Linked DNA regions of Homo sapiens: all the other regions are linked to region 3. Evidence: fine-mapped expression QTL. A gene starts in region 3. Each other region holds a variant in brackets. All regions are shown on one strand. Distances are from middle to middle.

Region 1 (2,805 bases), 50 kb before region 3:
TAAAAATAACACAGCAATCGGGTGATATGCAATTTGCCACTTGTACTTTCAATTTACAGACCTATTGCATGCCACTTGTGTTGGTTAAAGAAACAAGAAATAATTAGAAAGATAGGCTAATAGGGATAATAAGATATTTGTGATATCTGGGTCTTCCTCATAGCTCAAAAGACACTGTTTATTATACTACATCCAAATATAAAACAAATGATCTGTCTCCAACATAAACTATTTAGACTGAAAACCAGCCAAATGAAAGCAGCTGCCACTAGATTAAAAAGTCATTTTCTCAGCCAACTCAGATTAAAAAAGAAACATTTTATGAACATATTTCTTCAACTCAAGCAGATTTTTATTATTCTCTGTTTCAGCTGCACATAAAAATAAAAACAGCATCTCCTGGCATGACCATTTGCTAGAAATTTAATTTCAGATAAACAGATGGTGCTGAACTAAAAATATTAGCAGGGTATCATCTGTAAAATTCAAATCATTTTAGTATATGTTGTCTTTAGTCTTTTTTTTAAAAAAAACAGAAGTTTCTTTTTATAAATCTATTACACTAAAATGTAGCAAATATTTATCTTCAAGAGTGTTGAACAAGGGGCAGTTGGCATTTCTCTTGTGTCCCCTACCTCTAGGGGCTCCTTAAAAGAAATACATTTATAATATACTATTCCTTTTCTTACTTCAGGACCCTGAGATAAATCTGGATACAACTTTTTAAAGGCCACAAATTGAAGTTAAAATTCTCTTTACTGGTTGACTTACTTGCTATTAAAGGCTTGGGCACATTTTGTGCACCTGGGGGCCCAAGTTCTATATGACCAACTTCAGTGAAATGCGTGGATGCAGATAAAGGAGAAAAAGGCTGGCGCTGCAAAGAGCTGAAAGACAGTTTCCCAAATTCCATTAATAATTAAAACAAAAAATTAAAACGGCCTCTCCAACTGCTCAGCAAAAGTTCTAACCCAGGACCAAAAGCTACAGCAGCTCTGGGGACCAACGAAGGCTCTAACTGTGATTCGAAGCATGGATTGGATTAAAGCTCATTTTCATTTTGTGCCATCTAACTGCACAGCATACATCAGGTCAAACCACATTAAATTGCCAGTATTCAACCAGTTTTGACCACCATATGGCTCAACCTGATATCTAGGTTGCTTCCCAAGACCACTATTTCTAAG[C/T]CTGCCCTTAGTACAAGAACATTATTCAATGAACATAATTAAAGACAAGTAAAGACTCAAATCTGAAATCAATAGTCTATGGTCATAAATGCTAAGGTATTTTTTAAAAATTGAGTCAACTTTTGCTGCTACCAGCATCCATAATTGTGAATTAACTAGTCCAGATAAATAAACAGCTTTAGCATTATATTACTGGGAAATAGAAAAAGACAAATCTTTATATGGAAATGTATTGCTAGCCTCAAAGGGATTAAATATGTATATGTATATTTAATATTATATATTTAATGTTATATATATAGTACTTCTGGATGTATACTATGTTAGTATAAATAAGTGACTTTTTTTATACTAAGTGATTTTTAAGGAAAATTTAAGTTAGAATTCTCTTTACTGGTTGACCAGCGAAAATTTTAAGGCAAGGTCACTTAACTTTGGTACGATTGTCATTTTGGATCAGATCATTCTTTGTTGTGGAGTTGTCCTGTGCATTGTAGGATGTTTGGCAGCATCCCTGGCCTCTACCCATTAGATGCCAGTAGCACCACCCCTCTCCAGTCAGGATGCCAAAAACATCTTCACACATTGCCAAATTCCCTTGGTGGGTGGAGGGGGCAAATCCTTAACCCTCGTTAAGACTTGAGAAGACTTATTTAAGGTCTTCACTCAGTAACCAACCTATTCCATGTGTTTCTCTACCTTATGAGGGGGATAACCTCACTAGAAATAATATTTTTTCAAAGATTTTTGGTTTGGTTTGCCAGGTTTAGCAAATTAAAAATAGAGGTTGCCCAGTTAAATTTGAATTTCAGATAAACAACAAATAATTTTTTAGTATAAACATGTTCCAGGCTGGGCACTGTGACTCATGCCTGTAATCCCAGCACTTTGGGAGGCCAAGGCAGGAGGATCGTTTGAGCCCAGGAGTTTGAGACCAGCCTGGGTAACATAGCAAGACCCTGTCTCAACAAAAAAATAAAATGAAAATTAGGCAGGTGTGGTGGTGCACACCTGTAGTCCCAGCTACTCAGGAGGCTGAAGTGGGAGAACCACTTGAGCCCAGGAGTTTGAAGTTATAGTGACCTACGATTGCTCCACTGCACTCTGGCCTGGGAGATAGAGTGAGACTCTGCCAAACAAACAAACAAAAAAAAATGTTCCAAATATTGCTTAGTGTTTAATCTGGCAACCTTATTTTCAGTGAACTGCTAATACCATAAAAAAATTACTATAAATTAATTGCCAATTCATGACAGAGGAAAACAGGATTAAACAAAATGACAAAGATAACAGTTCACAGTTAGTGAGTTATAGTGAAAACAGCACATATTTTGGAGCCAGGTGTCTGAGGTAGAACCTGACTCTGCCATTTTGGAAGACGTGACCTTGGGCAAGCTAACTTATCTGAGTCTCCCTTTCATCTTTTATTTTTTAACAAATGGTGGGGATTGGGGGTGGGAGAGGGAATTATAATTCTCTTACTAGTCACTGTTAAGACTAGTAAGAGAGTTACTTACTAGTATTATTATTATTATCAAACAAATTGCCTCCTAAATGCGAATTGTATGATAAAGAGAAGCAGCTCTTTAAGGATGAAGTGAATAGTATGTACCATTTC
Region 2 (2,644 bases), 33 kb after region 3:
CGGCTCCGGCTCCGGCTCCGGCTCCGGCTGCCCCGGCCCCGGCTGCGGTCCCTGCTGCGGTCCCTATTTCTTCCTCTGCTTCGTGAATTGTGCCTCTCCCGACTCTTTGATGTGCGTTTGTGAGATTTCTTCCCCCTGTGACGACTACTTTTCCTCTCGGATTCCCCATTTCTTTTGTAGGAGTGGTCTGGACTAGGGTTTCTCCTTCCCCGCAGCCTGCTGTAGTAGTCGTCGTGGTGGCCCATCCTCTCCCTCCTTTCGGAGTTCTTCCCAAAGGAGGAGCCAGTCCGATCTGGAGACAAGTAGATGTCTCTATTAGCTTCCCAGAATTCATTGTTGGGATTTCTGAACACATGAAGAAAGTTGCAGTGCTTTCCTCTTGGACATTGTTGTATTTCAAATAAACCTGCAATGGCACAGTGATGAAACAGCACTTATCACTGCATATTCTGAAGATGCTACTTTATCCTTTTCCGAAGGTACATTTCTGATATTTGGATATGCTAGAACTATTTTCTACTGTGTATTATGTAAAAGGGGCTTACATAAATTGATGTCATAATTTGGTTCCCACGATTTCAAACGTGCTCTAATAAATGACACTCTGAAAGGTAACAAATCAGAAGTTTTCATTAAGCAGAATAGCCTGTGCCCCTGTTGGATTATGGTGCAGACTGCAACTGAGCAAATGGTGACCACGTTATCTTCTCCAGGTTTCACCTTCCCACTGATTGACGATTTTGATCCCTGATTAACATCAAATAGCCAGCTCTTTGGGTCCCTGTGGTAGCACGGTTTGATGGCATGGAGGAAACAGGCCAGAACCACTGGTCAAAAGAGAAGGCGTGGCCAGGTGCGGTGGCTCACACCTGTAATCCTAACACTTTGGGAGGCTGAGGCGGGCACAGACCTGAGGTCAGGAGTTTGAGACCAGCCTGGCCAACATGGCGAAACCCCATCTCTACTAAAAATACAAAAATTAGCTGGGCGTGGTGGCAGGCGCTTGTAATCCCAGCTACTCAGGAGGCGGAGGCATGAGAATCACTTAAACCCAGGAGGTGGAGGTTGCAGTGAGCCAAAATTATGCCACTGCACTCCAGCCTGGGCGACAGAGTGAGACTCACTCTCAAAAAAAAAAGAGAAGGCCTATTAAACATAGAGGAGTCTATATTTTCTTTAAACTTTAAGATTATAAACATTACACTAATGCTTCAAATTCACTAA[G/A]TGCTTTTAATACAGAAGATTCTTATCACAGATAAAATCTATTCGAACAATTTTGAGATCTTTGGGGTTCTCAAACGTTTTTTAAAAGCAGTAAATTCCCCAGATATGCACAACAGTTAGAAGTGAAATACCTCCGTACCACATACTATATACAAAAATTAAACTGTATCCAAGACCTAAATGTTAAGAAATGAAACTATGACCTTGAAGAAAACATACAAGTAAATCTTTGTGACCCTGGGCTAAGCAATGTCATCCTAGATGTGACACCAAAACAAACAAAAAAATAGTTAAGTTGGATTTCATCAAAATTTACAACTTGTATTTCAAAAGAACATGAAGTGAAAAGAACCTACAAAATGGGAGAAAATATCTGCAAATCATATTTGTGACCAGGTACTTGTATGGAGAATATACCAAGAACTCTTACAACTCAATAATAAAAAGACAAAGAGCCTAGTTAGAAAATAGGCAAAGGATCCAAACAGACATCTCTCCAAAGAAGACATACAAATGGCCAATAATGAAAAGATGCTCAGTGTCTTTAGTCAATAAGGAAAATAAAGTGTTTTTTTTTTTTTAATGAAATAGTCCCCTGCTTTGGAGGAGTCAAGGTCACACTCAGAAGCTCCTCACTGAACTCACACTGGATTCCCAGGAACTGACAAAAGTAACTGCCTTTATGGAGCGAACAATTCCACCTCTTCCATCCCCCGAGCCTTTAAAGTGTAATGGTTCTTCTGGTTTCCCTTAGCCAGGAATCCTAAAATCTTTCTTTTCCCTTCATAAATGGTTTCAGAATGACAGAATCCAAGGAAGACAAGCTTGCCAAAGATTCTGACTTTGCGTTAGGCAGGCATGTATACAGCAAAGAAACACAAGTAAACGGTAAGATAAGTGCTCCCCAGAGGCATTTAGAGCTCATCTCTTTTCACCTAGGGAACAGTCCACTGAGAGAAATCAGAACATAACTAGGCCTTCAAAACTGCTGGCTATTCTGCACAAGACTGGATCATTTCCTGATTGGGTTGCCACTGTCCGATGTCAGTCTGACTGCATTCATGTTTAACTGATCCCAAGCCTACAATTAGTCTCTAGTGCACAGAAGGATGTATTATTCCAAGTAAGGCAGGAAATGCTATGGGCAAGGTAACGTAGGTGGTCATGACAGAAGATTCATTAGGGATAAAGATGGAAAGAAAGAAACAAACAAACAGCTCAAGTGAAGTGAGCCAATGAATATAAAATACCTCTGAAACTGCAACAAGGGAAATGGGGCTTCCACAGACGTAAACTCCTCAGGCTTCCTGATTTGTCAGACACAGAGCCCAGGACTGAAGATTGGAAGACTGGAATTCTAGCCCCACCTCTGTCACCAATACGTTGTGACCTCAGTCACTTCATCTATCAAGTGACTCAT
Region 3 (2,805 bases):
GTCTTAGTTTCATAGATACTATAATGTACACAAAAAGAATATAATCCCTAATAAAGGATTCCTTTACATTGATTACATTTAGCTTCGTGAAAATTTTAGCATTTCTTTTTTTACTTTAGGCCATTAAAAAAATTCTGGCGACTATACTTAGGAACCTCTGCAAAAGGGGCATGGCCCAACAAAAGCAATTTTCTCGCTTCCTTTGTAAGAACCTAGGTGACTCGGGTAATGAATAGCATTTCGATATGGGAAACCCGTGGCTCTTCAAGGAAGGTCACCTAATCCCGTGGGACTCCCCTTTCCTTATCTGTAAATGACTAGATGATTCATCCATTCTATCATTCAGAAAATTATGAACATCCATTATGCCCAGGCATTACGCTCAGCATTACAGCTCTTAACAAATTTATCATTTTATAGTCTTTATCAGTCAACTCACATTTATTAGTTGTTATATACCAGGCTGTGAACTAGATTGAGATGCAAAATGAATACAATTTAAGGTGTGCTAAATAAAGGCTAACGGGCATGTGGGTGAAAGAGGGAATCGCTCTTACAGGGTTTTAGGGTGAGGCTTCATAGATGTGACATTTGGGAGCAAGGACATGCCAGGCACAGCAAGTCGTCGGCAGTGCTAAACTGGAACCCAGGCGGCTGGTGGGGCGACCCAGTGTGAAGGAAGCGGGATCTCGAAGGTGAGGTGCTGTCCGGGCTTTTCAGCCGAACGGACGGTAACTCATCCAGTCCGCAGCACCGAGGATGGGCGAGGCGAGCCCAGGGAACAGACTCCCGCGAAGCTCGGGGCGGAAGGTGTCTGGGCTAGGGCTGGAGCAGTGCAATGGGAAGGAGAGGGCGGATTCCGGACAATTTTGAGGCAGAATGATAGCAAAAGGCCCGTGAATGCGTGACGAGCTCCACAGAAGAGCTGACTTGTTTTTCCAGAGTTGCAGCACTCCCTCGTCTCCTCCCACCCTCCTCGTCAGCCGTCACACTTCACACTTCCTCTCTGGGGACACAGAGAATCATTAGAGCTCGAACGTGGCTCTTCGCTGTCCGGAACTTCCCTGCCCCGCACCACCCGCTAGGCTAAGGACGCTGCAGAATCCCGTCCTCCTATCATTAAACAAGCAGGACAGCCGCCCGCGCGCGTCCCGGAGGCACCTGCAAGAGCGCGCGGGCGCGCGGGCGCTCGGGCCCGGCAAACGCCGCTTCCGGGTCACGTGGCCCGGCTTCCGGTTCGCACCTCCCCTCAGCGAAGAAACCTCCAATCGGCTGCCTTGGACTCAGCGGTTACCCGCGCTGCCTCCGGTGCCGCTGGCGACCGCTGAGCCGCTTCCCGCGCGTCGCCTAGCCCGCCCCTCAGCTCGCCGCAGCCCCGGCTCCTCCCTCGTCCGGCCCCCGGGGCGGGGTCTGTCAGCTTGCCCTCCCCTCTCCGCCTAAGCCTGCCCTATGCCAGCCGGGTGTCCTCCCCACAGCACCACGGCTTCTCTTCCTCAGCACGGCGACAGGGGCTTCCCCTTCGCCGCCGCCGCCGCCGCCGGCCAAGCTCCGCCGCGCCCGCGGCCCGCGGCCGCCGTAAGTCCCTGGGGGCGAAAGGGGGCGCCGGGGATGGGGGAGAGGGGGAGGGAGGACTGGGCGCGCCCCCCGCCACCCCGCGCGCGCCCCGACGACCCCACCCCGAGCCTGCCCGGCCCGCCACTGGGTCGCCGCGCCCGCAACTCACTTCTCTCCGTGTCCGCGCCCTCCGCACCACTCCGCGCCGCGCCCGGGGATGTGGGGGCCAGTCCCGGGCTCCGCGACAGCCTCGCGGCACCTGTGGTTCGGGAATCGCCTCAAGTTTTGCGGGGCGCTTTCGGGAGGGGCCGGGGGCGGTGGCGGCCGAGGACTCTTGGCGCCCCCTGCGCGGCGGCGGATGCCATTGTCTGCTCCGCTCCTTGCCTGTCACCTCTCCCGGGCTTGGTCAGTGATGGAGTGTGGCCACGGGAGTGGGGGGGAGGCACCGGCGACGGCCGGACCCGAGGAACGCTGGCCCCGAGCCCGCGCCGCGGCTGAGCCCATTGTTTTTAATGCCAGTCTCGAGGAATTGTGGTGCCCTGTGATTTGCGGCAAAATCAAAGCGTTGGTTTTTAACACGAGGGAAGGAATACTCGTGCTTTGCAACCGGGTTTCGTCCCATGTTAGGACATAATTTATTTTAAGGAGAATACATTGTTTTTTCGTCCTGCAAAGTGGTAGGGCGGATACAGGACCCTGCTCCAGACAGCCTTGAGCCCATACTCTTCGCAGGCAAACCCTCACCCTTTCTGGTCACCAAGATCTAGGAATACGAGGTCCATTCTTTTCCAAGTTCTGGTAACGGGTTTGCAGTAAATGCCCAGTTGATGCTTCACTTCCTGCCCCCTTCGAATGCCGCTATCTTCAGGACTTGCACGGGAGGCACTTTGGTATCACCTAATAATGTCCTTATATTTTGTTCCCCTGACGCATTTTAAGTGAGGTAATAAGACCATTTTAACTTTACTAAAGTTGAATTGCCACGTCATACATTTCTAGATATCTTGTTGATACCTTTTTGGGTGGTTACAAAAAGCGACGATAATTTCTTACCGAAATTTAGGGCCCATTTTTATTCTACATTGGTTCTGTAAATTTCCCCTCCCCGTGTTCAAATTCAAGATGGTGTGGTGAATCTTGAGAATCATGCTTGAATCTTATTTGCAGTAACGCTGTTAAAGGAACTTAACAGTGATTAAAAGAAAAAAGGATACCTATGTGAATTCTGCCTTTAAATTACCTTTGTAGAAA

Direction of the effects. Positions count from the first base shown, and alleles are read on the strand shown. Sizes are in standard deviations (SD) of each study's normalised expression. Not every link is listed here.
In carriers of allele A in region 2, the expression in fibroblasts of the gene that starts at base 1,450 in region 3 tends to be higher than with G alone (small effect, 0.34 SD a copy in GTEx).

What was found. PIP is the estimated chance that this variant, and not a neighbour inherited with it, causes the effect. A credible set is the group of variants that fine-mapping cannot tell apart.
Region 1: its variant is the best candidate, but not a certain one, in a credible set for the expression of AP1S2 in monocytes (TOPMed, PIP 0.50).
Region 2: its variant is the best candidate, but not a certain one, in a credible set for the expression of AP1S2 in fibroblasts (GTEx, PIP 0.69).

Annotation. Positions count from the first base shown.
Region 1 is chrX:15,903,730-15,906,534 of GRCh38, reverse strand. No RefSeq gene overlaps it. Among named protein-coding and RNA genes, the nearest start is that of AP1S2, 50 kb to the right of the region's middle. The variant C/T (reference allele first, on the strand shown) is at 1,188.
Region 2 is chrX:15,820,493-15,823,136 of GRCh38, reverse strand. It overlaps ZRSR2 (zinc finger CCCH-type, RNA binding motif and serine/arginine rich 2), which reads right to left. Exons shown (of 11, transcript NM_005089.4): 11 at 1-406. Among named protein-coding and RNA genes, the nearest start is that of ZRSR2, 31 kb to the right of the region's middle. The variant G/A (reference allele first, on the strand shown) is at 1,225.
Region 3 is chrX:15,853,458-15,856,262 of GRCh38, reverse strand. It overlaps AP1S2 (adaptor related protein complex 1 subunit sigma 2), which reads left to right and starts at 1,450. Exons shown (of 6, transcript NM_001272071.2): 1 at 1,450-1,575. RefSeq lists silencers at 1,034-1,143, 1,234-1,513, 1,734-2,023 and an enhancer at 812-1,416.